4 linked regions of the Homo sapiens genome follow. The protein of the gene in region 1 purifies or fractionates together with the protein of each later gene. This does not show direct contact. Each region holds a gene or a part of one and is shown in the gene's direction. Other genes may lie near its edges.

Region 1 (3,500 bases):
CACTGAAAGTACAATCTGCTCTTTGAATAATTCAAATCAGAACAGAAAATCCTTTCAAGATATCATTCTTATCAGGCAGGGAAAGTTCTTCATGTTCTAAGTGAATTACTCTGGCTCTTGCCTTGAGACCCATGAAAGTCATTTGGGGTTGACAATGGTATCTATTTAAACCAAGTGATTGTCTTTTGGAGGGAATTGGCATCTTTTCTTTAGGAATGAGAAGTGGAATGGTTGCTTAGAAAAAAAGAGATAGATGAACTCCACAGAAAGATCAAGAGTCTTTTCTTCAAAATATTTTTAAGTGAGGAAGATCAGGGTGTTGGTATTGCGGGGAGGGAGGAGAGTGGGCAGAGAGAAAGATAAAAAAGAAACCTTTAATCCAATGGTGTGCAACCAACTGACTTCCAGAGGGGGGAATATCACATGGCTTTTCAACTCATTTATAAAGATATCATGGAAACTGTCTGATTTCTTCATGAGCAGCTCTTAGAAAACAAACAAAAATAAAACAAACACCAAATATGAACAACAGAAAAAAACAGCCAAAATAAAAGTAGGCCTGGAGTTAGGTTTCTAGGTCAAGCTGTCTTTGGCTACATCTAATTAAGGAGTCTCCACAGGGCCAGTGTCTATCTTGTTTACTATTGGTTTGATTTTTAAAAATAAAACACATTGCATTTGCAGGCTGTCTGTTAACCAGAAGTCCATGCAGTTTTTTTTTTTTCCATTTTTGCTGTTTTAAGTTTGTGCATAGCTCAATTGATGAATGCAATTAAGGCTTGAAGTCGGTGATGTGAATGACATAACTTCTATGATTCCTTACAATTCTCTTGGTTTCTGTGGTTCTGAGATGATTGCTAATGAGAATAAGCCAGATACACCACTGAAACCGTCACCCATTCAACTTTGAGATTTCTAAATTGGATGTAGTTTAAGGCACATGGTGTGGTAAATCTATTTAACAGACTCTAAGACCTGTTCAAGTTGTGTGCGATTCAAATGTTTTATTCTTTATTCAACAAATTTCTTGAGCACCTGCTATGTACTAAGATGTATTCCAGGTGCTCAGGATATAGCAATGAACAAACCATCCCGTTCCCAAGAGGCTTACATCTCAGTTGGTGGGAGGCAGCCAATATAAATAAACAAGTAAGTATTATAGTATTAGAGGTAGTAAAAGCTATGGAGAAAAAGAAAACTGGTTAAAGGGGGAACAGAAAATAACAAGTGGAGAAATTAGATCCCTTGTGCATTGCCGGTGGGAATGTAAAATGGTGAAGCTGCTGTGGAAAACAGCATGGCAGTTACTAAAAAAAATTAAACATAAAATTACTATATGTCCCAGCAATTCCACTTCAAGGTATATACTTTAAAAAATTGAAAGTAGGGACGTGAGCAGATATTTGTACACCTGTGTCAGTAGAAGCATTATCACAGTAGCCAAAAGGTAGAAACAACACAAGTCTACTGATGAATGAACAGATAAAATGTGAAATATACATACAATGGAATATTATTCAGCCTTAAAAAGGGAATTCTGACACATGCTACAATGTGGATGAACCTTGAAAACATGCTAAGTGAAACAAGCCAGAAATAAAAGGACACATATTTTATGATTTTTCTTATAGAGGCATCTAGAGTAGTCAGATCCCTGCAGACAGAAAGTAGAATGGGGATTGCTGGGGGAGATAGAAGACAGGAAGGGGGAGTTAGTGTTTATTGAGGATAGAGTTTCAGTTTGGAAAGATGAAAAAGTTCTGGAAATGGATGGTGGTGATGTCACACAACAGTGTGAATGTACTTAGTGCCACTGAGTTATAACATTTCAAAGTGGTATATTTTATGTTATGTATATTTTACAGTAATTTTAAAAAGCAACAAAACATGATGAGGGGTATTAAGGGAGTACTCAGGTGGGGATTAGATCTTTACTACATGACATCTCAGCACAGATCTGAAGGAGGCAAACGAGTTGACCCTGTAGCTGTCAGGGAAAAAGTGTGTTCCAAATGTCAGAGCAGCAAGTACAGAGGCCCTGAGATAGGAGTGTTTGTGACATGTTGGAGGAAGGAGAAGAAGGCCAGGGGAGAGTGCTAGGAGTTCAGGAGGGAGAGGGAGTCAAGGTCCAGACCTGTAGGGACCAGATTTTGCAGGTCAACAGTGGTTTATCTGAGGACTTGTAAACTCTCACGGAATTCTCAGTGTGGTTTTCAACATCACAAAACTACATTGTCCTTTCTGAAGAGACTCTGGTAAGGTTGGCAGGATCACATACCAGATGGGAACTCGATAGGGGGTAAAACCCAGATTTCTGGACTGTCTGGTTAATGACAGGACTTACCTGGAGTTGTAATTCACTTCAGTAGAAAAGGAAAGTTTGACAAATAGGTGAACGTACAGTTGACTTGGAGAGCAAATTGTAAGAACATAATGATAATCCTGGAGTTTCAACACAAACCTATGTCTTACCGCCACCCTGCGTTGTATCCAGTGTCGTTTTAAGAGATATTTACAAGGAGGACTAATATTCTGCTCTCCAGCATCCTTGAGGAATTAGAAGCTTCACATCAGTGATTCTCCTTAATAAGTGAAGTGGACCCCTGCACATGTGCAAACTTAAAGCAAACCTCAAATTTTGTTACTTATTACATAAGATATACATATTCATGTAGCACACACCTTGGACTCGGCTACTCAGGGGACGGAGGCAGGAGAATTACTTGAGCCCGGGGGTTTGAGGCTGTAATATACTATGATTGCATCTGTGATAGCTACTGTACTCCAGCAAGACCCCATCTCTGTTAAAAAAATTTTTTTAAGGAGAAAAAGATAGCATATTCATTGTAGTGCAACATTAGGAAATAAAGAGGAGCAATGAAACAAAACAAAACAATTCAACTATTAGAGATTAGGGTTTCAGGCTTTTCCTCTAAGTATGCATATGTAAAATTTACGTATATATTTAAATTTCATAAAAAGGGACTAACACAGTATCTCTCATTTGGTAAATTACCTTTTGTACATCTTGAACATCTTTTTAATAAACAGACATCTGTGTCTCATTTTTCTAAATGTGCCTACCCCTTTGATGGCCTTTCATTTTTATTGAGTCTAGGTTTATACTTCCCTGATATATATACATATATAAATAGATATTTGTAAAAAATACATAATATAATAATTTTACACATACACGTATTTAACAGTTTGAATTAGGATCCAAATAAGGTAAATACATTACAAATGGTTGATGTTCACTAATCTCTGTATTTCCTCTACAGATCTTTTTTCCATGCATTTTTTTTGTTGTTATCGAAGAAACTGGGTGATACACGTCTCCACAGTTTAGACTTTGCTGACTGCATCAGTGCAATGTGGTTTAACATGTTTCTGTATCCCCTTGGGGTACCATAATTTGGTAGTTAGATGTAGAGGCTTCATCAAAGTTAGGTTCTTTTCTTTTTTAAATTGAGAAGGGGTCTCACTATGTTGCCTCG
Region 2 (2,177 bases), about 140 Mb from region 1:
AATCTTTGTCACAAGATTTAGCTATGGAGAAGAACTGCAGTCCTTTGTGGGAGCTGTCATTGTTGGTACATACAATGTCGTGGTTGTGATTGTGCTTACCAAACTGCTGGTGGCAATGCTTCATAAAAGCTTTCAGTTGATAGCAGTAAGTTCATTCTTTTAAAAACTTTATATTCTCCTCAGACCATACTAAGTGCATACAATAGATAAGATAGCCAAAGATTATAAGATTATAAGAATTGAAAAATAGTATTTTTAAATTAAATATAGATTTTTAAAATGTAAGTAATGTATAATAATTGCAAATGTTGAACAAAATTTTTCTGCAAGGTGTGGAAACATCCCCCATATTTGTGTGTGTATTAATATTCTAGTTTGCTTTTTAATTTGCCTTTTATATAGAATCATGAAGACAAAGAATGGAAGTTTGCTCGAGCAAAATTATGGCTTAGCTACTTTGATGACAAATGTACGTTACCTCCACCTTTCAACATCATTCCCTCACCAAAGACTATCTGCTATATGATTAGTAGCCTCAGTAAGTGGATTTGCTCTCATACATCAAAAGGCAAGGTCAAACGGCAAAACAGTTTAAAGGTAAGAAATTAGAAGCTTGAATGGCAACATAAAAGTTTTAACAATTCCTAATCTCAGATATTTCTTAAAGCGTAAGTATGCAGGTTCCCTAAGGGCTGTGACTGTCTGACTTTTTTTCACTGCTATATACCCTAATGTACGGCATCGCATCCAACATAAAGTAAGGATTCAATAAATACTATTGAGAGTGAGAGGGCTGGGTGCGGTGGCTCACGCTTGTAATCCCAGCACTTTGGGAGGCTGAGGCAAGCACATCATCACTTGAGGTCAGGAGTTTGAGACCAGCCTGGTGAAACCCCATCTCTACTAAAAACACAAAAACTAGCTGAGTGTGGTGGCACATGCCTGTAGTCCCAGCTACTCAGGAGGCTGAGGCAGGAGAATTGCTTGAACCCAGGAGGTGGAGGTTGCAGTGAGCCAGGATCATGCTACTGCACTCCAGCTTGGGTGACAGAGCGAGACTCCACCTCAGAACAAACAAACAAACAAATATATATATACACACACACACACACACACACACACACACACACACACACATATAATTATTAAGAATGGGAGATAGTACTGAGATTTTTTTTTTTACTTTTCAGATTCCTCCAATATATAAAATTTCATCTCATAGTTTTAAAACATGGGAAATATTCAAAATACCCATTCTGTCACTGTAGCTAAAGAATGACTACTAGAATCAGCTCATATTTTTCTGGTTCTTCTTGAAAGTTATTCAATACATCAATAATTCAATATATGTTACTATAAACCAGGGGTTGGGACATTTTTTCTGTAAAGGTCCAGATAGTAAATACTTTACACTTTTCAGGCTGAGACAAAATCAGAGATATTGTAAGCAGTGATACAGTAAGAGAGAAAACAAATTTTCACAAAACTTTTATTGATAAAAGTCAAAATATAACAATAACAGTAATAACTTTTTAAATATAGGTCTACTAGTGAAAAGAATGGAGTTCCTTTTGGGAGGGGATAAAATTTCACTTAACTAGAGTTTAAAATTAGTGTTATTATCAATTGATGATAAATGTTCATCTGTAAAATCTATTCTTAGCTCACAGGCTGTAAAGTCAGGATATGGACCATATTTGGCTTGTGGGTTGTAGTTTGCCAATCCCTGCTATAAACTAAGGATTCCTAAGACTAATTTTTTTCAATCAAGATAAGCATAAAATTAAATTCATTAAACAAATATGCAGGCTATATTTGTTTTAAACAAGTGTTGAATATTATACCATGTAGTAGAAAAACTATAGTCTAATAAAGCATTTAAAGATGTGTTTGTGTCTGTGAATATATTTTTGAACTCTACCTCATTTAAATATCGTTTCTGCATATCCTTAGTATCATATTGTTGTTTTGAAGGAATGGAGGAATTTGAAACAGAAGAGAGATGAAAACTATCAAAAAGTGATGTGCTGCCTAGTGCATCGTTACTTGACTTCCATGAGACAGAAGATGCAAAGTACAGATCAGGCAACTGTGGAAAATCTAAACGAACTGCGCCAAGATCTGTCAAAATTCCGAAATGAAATAAGGGATTTACTTGGCTTTCGGACTTCTAAATA
Region 3 (3,500 bases), on another chromosome or scaffold:
CAGTTTGAAAATGTATACACCCATGTAATCAGAACATTTCCATGTCCCCAAAAGGTCCTTTCCTGTCAGTCCCCACCTGATCCCCTGGCCCAGAAACCTCTCAGCTACCTCCCATCCTCATAGATCTGTCTTTCTCAGGGTTCCATGTGGATGGAATCTCACTGCCCTTTTGTGGTTGGTTATTTCCCCTTCCCCCAGCTTGGCATTTGTTACCCCAGCTTGGCATTTCATCCATATTATTGCATATTAGGAGTTCCATCCTTCTTTATTGCCAAGTAGTACTTTATTGTATTAAAAGCTTCGTGTTTCAAGTACCATCATGGTACAGTCTCTACCTACCAGTAATCATCTAACATGGAAACTTGTTTCAGATTAAGGTATCCATCTTGCCATGTTGCCTTGACAGAATGTGTCTGCAGATTAGAAAACGCACTTAGGAACTTTGCCTGTCTGACCACCGGGGATGTGATTGCCATCAACTATAATGAAAAGGTGAGCCCAGTTCATGCAGGTCATTCCTGACAAGAGCCACCTGCAGTGTCCATTCTAATGTTTGAATGGGGCTTCTTTTTAAGCAGCGTATGCCTGGATCTTATCACCTAATTACTGCCTACTGTTTGGTTATTAAGTTTTCCCGGGTTCATATTTAGAGCCCTAATTCATTTGGTAACTCTGTTTTGAGGATAGATTGCATTTACAGGGGAACATTGATAGACTTATTAGTCATACCTCTGTGTACCTTGGTGGCAAGGCTGCTGGTTCTGTCTTGGTTTGAAAGGTCCCCACTGCACCTCTAATCTGAGCTAAGCCCTTTGCAGGGCTGTGGAGACACAATAACAACCCTGCTGGGTCCTTGTCCTTGGGATACCTGCCCCACAGAAGCTGACAGGCCCTTCAGTGGGGCCAAGTGCTGTGTGGCATCTGAGAAGCAAAGCCTGGCTCTGCCTTAGGGCAACACCTCCTAGGCTCACCTCTCCTCCTGGGAGCCCACATCCTCCTCCACCTCCTGTTTTCTTCAGCTTCCGTTTTCACTTAGCAGCTTCTCTAGGCTTGACCTTTCTGACACAAGTCTCTCAGGTCTGAATGCCTCTGTTTTCATCCCTGATTTTATGCTGTTTAGGTGTCTGGATCTAGACAATTTAACTGTAAAGTGAAATGACAGGACTTAGTCCAAAATTCAAGAAAGCATTCACTTTCCTATTACCTATGGGAATATGCCTGCAGGAGGATGTAATAGTTGGCAATCCTGCCATCAGGCTGTCCCACCACAGGCATGGAGCACAGTAATATGGGTGCCCCTGTTCACTGTGACTGTTGACAATTGACCCTCCCACAGAGCTGTTGCCAGGGCTAGCCTTAGTGTTCGGGAGTGACCACAGCCTGGCTTGGCTGGGCTTTCCCTGAAGCTAGCACTTAGCTCCTTCACAGCACTCTCTGGTCCCTTCGGGGACTGGGCCGTCACAGCTGTGTCACAGCTGCCTGTGGTTTAGCCAGTTACTCCCTTGGTGTCAGTGCAGGGATCCAGCTTATTCTCTGGCAGTTTCCTCATATTTGAGGCATCTGACCTTATTTTTCAGTTCCTTGGGTTTCGAATCACACTTTCTTTTTTCCTTTTAATAAACTAAGAAATAATCTTGTTCCCTTTAGCTTTGTGGAGAACATTTTAGGTATCGTTTACCTTAACTGAATACTCTAAGCTTTTATAATTAATTACAGGCAGTTTAATGTTATTGTTTTTAATGTTAAGGTAGTAATACTACATATAACTCCTAAACTGATGATAAAGGATAGTACTGATACTTTGCACTCTAAGGGAGGGTACATTATATAAGAGTGTATGTAAAATTGAAACACAGGTTTGAACTTCCACTTTTAGAAGTAGGGAAAACTAGATCCTCTAATGGGCCCTTCTGATTAATGTACTGTTGTGCTTATAGAGAATTTTAAACACTCTAAGCTGGGTTGCCCTGAGGGCAGATGGCCATATCAGTGCTCTAGTGGGAGATCTGAGTCAGAGATCAGGATTGAACGGGAACCCTTAAAAGCAGTAAAATATACACAGAGGTGGGTGTTGTCATTGTCTCAGGAGAAATAAACAGATCCTCTCTGGAAAAAGCACTCCAGTTTAGTTACGTCTTTGGGATTGCTGTCAATTGAACAAGCAAAGAACACATAATTAAACTACACCAAAGCAGAGACAATAAAAATTAGATCCCTAAGGAAATCAGCATTAGAATTTCTAGATACAAATGTAAAATAATTAGATATAAAATGTTCAAAGATATTTTTTAAAATGGAATTATAATAGCGAGCAACAAAAGGCTATCAAAAATAACCAGAAAGATTTGAAAAACAATGTTAAACAACAGCTATAAAAGAGTTAATGAAAGATGAATCTGAAGAAATAACAGAATTTCACACAGAGGAGCAAGGGGATGGAACATATGAGAGCTTGAGATGTTGAAGACACTGAGAAAGTCAAACATGCCCATTGCAATCCCAGTAGGAAAGAATGGAGGAATTGCAATAATCTGAAGAGATGGTAACTGAAATTGATTTAGAATTGGTGGTCAGCCCATCATGACAGGAAATTTATAATGTATAACAAACAGAATAAGCTACAGGTAGAAAATACCAAATACAGAGAGGTAAGCAGGGAGAAAACACAGTACCTTCAGAAGAACAGCAAGTAGCAGGTCTTTGAATAGCAACAGTTACAGCCAGTATCAAGTAACTATCATCAAAACCTTCCTTAAAGAATAAGGGCAAAGTGAAAATATTTTCAGATGAACCAAATCTGAGAGAGGTTATTTACCAATGGAATTTTAAAAGCATGTACTTTAGGAATAAGCATTATCCTAGAAGGAAAGCAAGAAGGAATAGGGAATAAATAAATTGGCAAATATGAATCCAGGGTAAATGTTGCCATATAAAGCAGTAATAATGTTTAATGTATGAAGCTTAAAAAATGACATCTAAAATGTTGGAAAAGAGTAAGTCTTTAGACTTACTCTCTTTTTTTTTGAGAGAGTCTCTCTTTGTCTCACCCTGGCTGGAGTGCAGTGGCGCGATCTTGGCTCACTGCAGCTACCACCTCCTGGGTTCGAGCAATTCTCCTGTCTCATCTCAGCCACCTGAGTAGCTGGGACTACAGGCATGTGCCACCACTTGCGGCTACTTTTGTATTTTTAGTAGAGACGAGGTTTCACCATGTTGGCCAGGCTGGTCTCGAACTCCTGACCTCAGGTGAGCCATCAGCCTCAGCCTCCCAAAGTGCTGGGATTATAGATGTGAGCCACCGCGCCTGGCCTAGACTTACTCTCTTGAGAGAGTTGTTTAGAATTAAAGTGTTCTCTGTTTACAATTCAATAAAGTTAATAAAAAAGATAGCTGAAGCTGGGTGTGGTAGCTCACACCTGTAATCCCAGCAATTTGGGAGGCTGAGGTGGGTGGATCACTTAAGTCCAGGAGTTTGAGACCAGACTGGGCAACATGGCAAA
Region 4 (3,500 bases), on another chromosome or scaffold:
CTGTAGTCCCAGCTACTCGGGAGGCTGAGGCAGGAGAATGGCGTGAACTCAGGAGGCGAAGCTTGCAGTGAGTCGAGATAGTGCCACTGCACTCCAGCCTGGGTGACAGAGTGAGACTCCATCTCAAAAAAAAAAAAAAAAAAAGATTGCTTCTGGTGACGGAAAAATGAATATTGTGTGTTTTCTGCTCTCAAATAAATCATAGTATTCAGACTGTCATTTGATGTCTTTATCAATGTTATCAGAGGAAAGGGGAAACTTTGAGGGGAAGTGTTTTGGGGAAACTATTGGAGTTACTTTTCAGATGATTCTGGATCTTTCTTAATTTTATGGACTATTGGAATTCCAGAATTAAAAGCTACCTTGGGATGATCCAGTATAACCTTGCACCTGATAGTAGTGTTTTCTTATACCATTTCTGCCACGTGGTTACCCAGTAGCTACTTGTACATGCTTAGTAATATGCCAGCCATTTCCATTACAGGTTTAGTACCCCTTATCCGAAATGCTTGGGACCAGAAGTATTTTAAATTTTGGATTTGTAAAGATTCTGGAATATTTGCATAGACATAATGAGATATCTCAGGGATGGGACCCAGGTCTAAATATAAAATTTATTTATGTTCTTCCTTGTTGGTATAGTGGTTAGTTTTTTTTTTTTAAGGTATTTTATTTATGTCCCATATACACCTATAGCCTGAAGGTAACTTTATAAAATATTTTAAATAATTTTGTGCATGAAACAAAGTTTACCTTAAGTGCTTATGTGTGGAATTTTCCACTTGTGTCATAATGTGGGCTCTCAAAAAGTTTCAGATTTTGGAGCATTTTGGATTTCAAATTTTCAGATCAGAAATGCTCAACCTGTATTAGACACTGGAAGCCTTAGAAAATTCTCCTTACTGTAAGCCCCAGTTTACTACCTAATAACTACCACCTAGTTATATCTTCTGTGCAACAAATATGGTCACTGCACATGGGTGCCCACCTGAGGAGGGCAGGGGCTGAAACCCAGCTTCATTCTGCATGTCAAACCATGCACCTGCAGGACTGTAGAAACGGCTGGTGCCGTTTTCTAATTGGCACAGAGCTGCTGTATGGACTAGCTGGAGGTCTAACAGCAAAGGAAGTATTGATATATTCCCTTCCAAATCACAGGCTTTACACAATACAACTAGGAGAAGAAAGCCAAACTAAAATTCAAATGTACTAAATTTTTTTCCTATCTCTGGGTGACTTTGGGCAAATCATTGAATCTTTCAACCTCAGATTTATTATAAGTAAAATAAAGTAACACCTCTCTTAACCTACCTTAATGGGTCCAAAAGCTCATGTTGACAAAACGGTTCTCTGACTCACTGTAGGGTCAGAATTACTGGCTGTGACTGCACATAGGAGAATCATTTCTAATTTTTATAACATTTTGCTTCACAGGGAGGCTGAGAAGACAAAACTCCTTATAGCTGCACAGAAACAAAAGGTTGTGGAAAAAGAAGCTGAGACAGAGAGGAAAAAGGCAGTTATAGGTACTTGGATTTCTCTGAAATGATTGTCTCTAAGTACATTTGTTTGTCCTGTTCTTTGTCAGTCTCATTTTGGGTATCATGGGACTCAGTAAGATTGCATCATAGGTAGTGGGGAATTCTGGAATCTCCACTGTACATTCAGATGTTCTAAAGCCTTTAAAAGTAGGTGAGACCAGTACTTAATGATGTGCTGTGGCTGTCCATCATGTTGTTAGATGCTACTGTTGTCTCTTTCAAGAACAGGGAGAATGGATAGGGTTTATAGGCAGCTTGAGTCTGTGGATAGCATTTTCATTTGTACAGATTAAGAATAGGGAAGTTTTTTGACCAAAGTTTCAGATTGTAGTATGCATCCTTGTTGTTGACATGCACTTAGTTTTACCTGGATAGGTAGTGCCGTTTATGAAAGCATGGCAGGATTGTTTACAGTTCATTTCAGATTACAGTGGCTTCCCTTATACTCCAGGTCACTGTGTATTAGATTGCCCTCTTTGGCCCTCGGTTGATGCTGAAAGTTTAATACATCTTTAATTAAATAATTCAATTATAGAGGAATGTACAGAGAACAATATAATGAAAGCTTAAGATTTTGCCTTATTCCCTTCAGATCTTTTTTTTTTTTTTTAAGAAAAAAATTAAATATCTGTTTGAAGCCTCCTTTGTATGTTCACTGGTCCTACTCTTTGACTTTTCTTCTCAGATTAACTTCTATTCTGAAGTTGATGTATATCCTTTCTGTCCATATTTTTATACTTTTACTGTAAGTGTGTAAGAGTTTATAAAATTGTTTTACCTGTTTGAAACTACAAAAATGTTACCAAACTCTTATTTTACAACTTGCCTTATTTTCACTAACATTGAGTTTTATTCATATTGATACATGTAGATCTAGGGATTTTTTCTTTTTTTGGCATTTTATCCTTATTCTCTGTGAGATGGTAGATCGTTTATGTTTAGCTGCTACATTTTTCGTTCTATGAGCGGGCCTAGTTTTATTGTAATGAATTACCAATGAGGAGTTAGGTAGTTTCTAGTTTTTCCTTATTACAAACACTGCCACAATAACATTCTTATCCAGTGCCTCCTGGATACAGTGTACATGTGCAGGTTTCCATAGAGTAGCATTACTCAGTGTATGGTGTGGGCCAGTGCCCTATCACCAGCTTTTTGTTTCTGAGCCTCAATGAGATGAGTATAGAAATTGAGAATGAGTGTTTAGAAGTTTTTATAGCATTTTAATACAGCAGTTTTATGTCTGTTGAATCAAAAATAAAAAATCAGAGCTTATATATTTATGTTTTTGTTTTTTAATTTCTTTTTTCTAGTACTGTAATTTGTTTTTGTTATAGTTTACAATTTATTGGTTCCTCATAAATTGAAATACACACACAAAAAGGTAAGGTATTTTTCCACAGGTGGTTTGAGAAGCACTGCTCTAGAATAGCTATCTCAAAGTAGAATTGATGGGTCATAGGGTAGCATGTCTTCACATTCAACATATTGACAAATTGCTCTCTCAAGTACTTCTTTGATTTTACCATCTCTTCAACAATATTTGATATCCAGTTTCTATGCTGCCATATTTGAATTCCCATTTCCACACATCCTTCTTGGTCCTTGGAGTTATCAGACTTAAAACTTTATGTCTGTTTAATGGAAGACATGGTATCACATAATTTCAATTTGAATTTCCCTGATTGTTAGTAAAGTTGAATATTGCTTATTGGTCATTCAAGTTTCCTTTTTTGTTGTTGTTATATGAATTGCCTGTTAATGTCCTTAGCCCATTATTTGATTGCTTTTTTGAGTTGATTTGTAAGAGTCCTTTCTGTCTCCTGGATACTGATCCTTTTTCAGATTTATGCATTTCCAACATCTTTCAATTTGTGGCTTGTCTTTGAACTTTACAATGTCTTCGATATACATATATGTGTAGTTTTTGTGTAGACAAATTCATTAGTCTTTTCCTTTATG

The links.
Region 2: the proteins of ITPR1 (region 1) and TRPC1 purify together in Homo sapiens (affinity purification with western blotting, with the first as the bait; one study listed by BioGRID). This does not show direct contact.
Region 3: the proteins of ITPR1 (region 1) and UFD1 purify together in Homo sapiens (affinity purification with western blotting, with the first as the bait; one study listed by BioGRID). This does not show direct contact.
Region 4: the proteins of ITPR1 (region 1) and ERLIN1 purify together in Homo sapiens (affinity purification with western blotting, with the first as the bait; 2 studies listed by BioGRID). This does not show direct contact.

What each region holds. Positions count from the first base shown.
Region 1 is NC_000003.12:4,496,348-4,499,847, forward strand, and holds part of ITPR1 (inositol 1,4,5-trisphosphate-gated calcium channel ITPR1), read left to right. Parts: intron 1-3,500. UniProt on the Homo sapiens protein: Inositol 1,4,5-trisphosphate-gated calcium channel that, upon inositol 1,4,5-trisphosphate binding, mediates calcium release from the endoplasmic reticulum (ER).
Region 2 is NC_000003.12:142,804,034-142,806,210, forward strand, and holds part of TRPC1 (short transient receptor potential channel 1), read left to right. Parts: coding exon 1-145; intron 146-402; coding exon 403-597; intron 598-1,974; coding exon 1,975-2,177. UniProt on the Homo sapiens protein: Forms a receptor-activated non-selective calcium permeant cation channel. Forms a heteromeric ion channel with TRPC4 or TRPC5 that has reduced calcium permeability compared to the homomeric TRPC4 or TRPC5 channel.
Region 3 is NC_000022.11:19,462,194-19,465,693, reverse strand, and holds part of UFD1 (ubiquitin recognition factor in ER-associated degradation protein 1), read left to right. Parts: intron 1-419; coding exon 420-492; intron 493-3,500. UniProt on the Homo sapiens protein: Essential component of the ubiquitin-dependent proteolytic pathway which degrades ubiquitin fusion proteins.
Region 4 is NC_000010.11:100,162,030-100,165,529, reverse strand, and holds part of ERLIN1 (erlin-1), read left to right. Parts: intron 1-1,434; coding exon 1,435-1,526; intron 1,527-3,500. UniProt on the Homo sapiens protein: Component of the ERLIN1/ERLIN2 complex which mediates the endoplasmic reticulum-associated degradation (ERAD) of inositol 1,4,5-trisphosphate receptors (IP3Rs).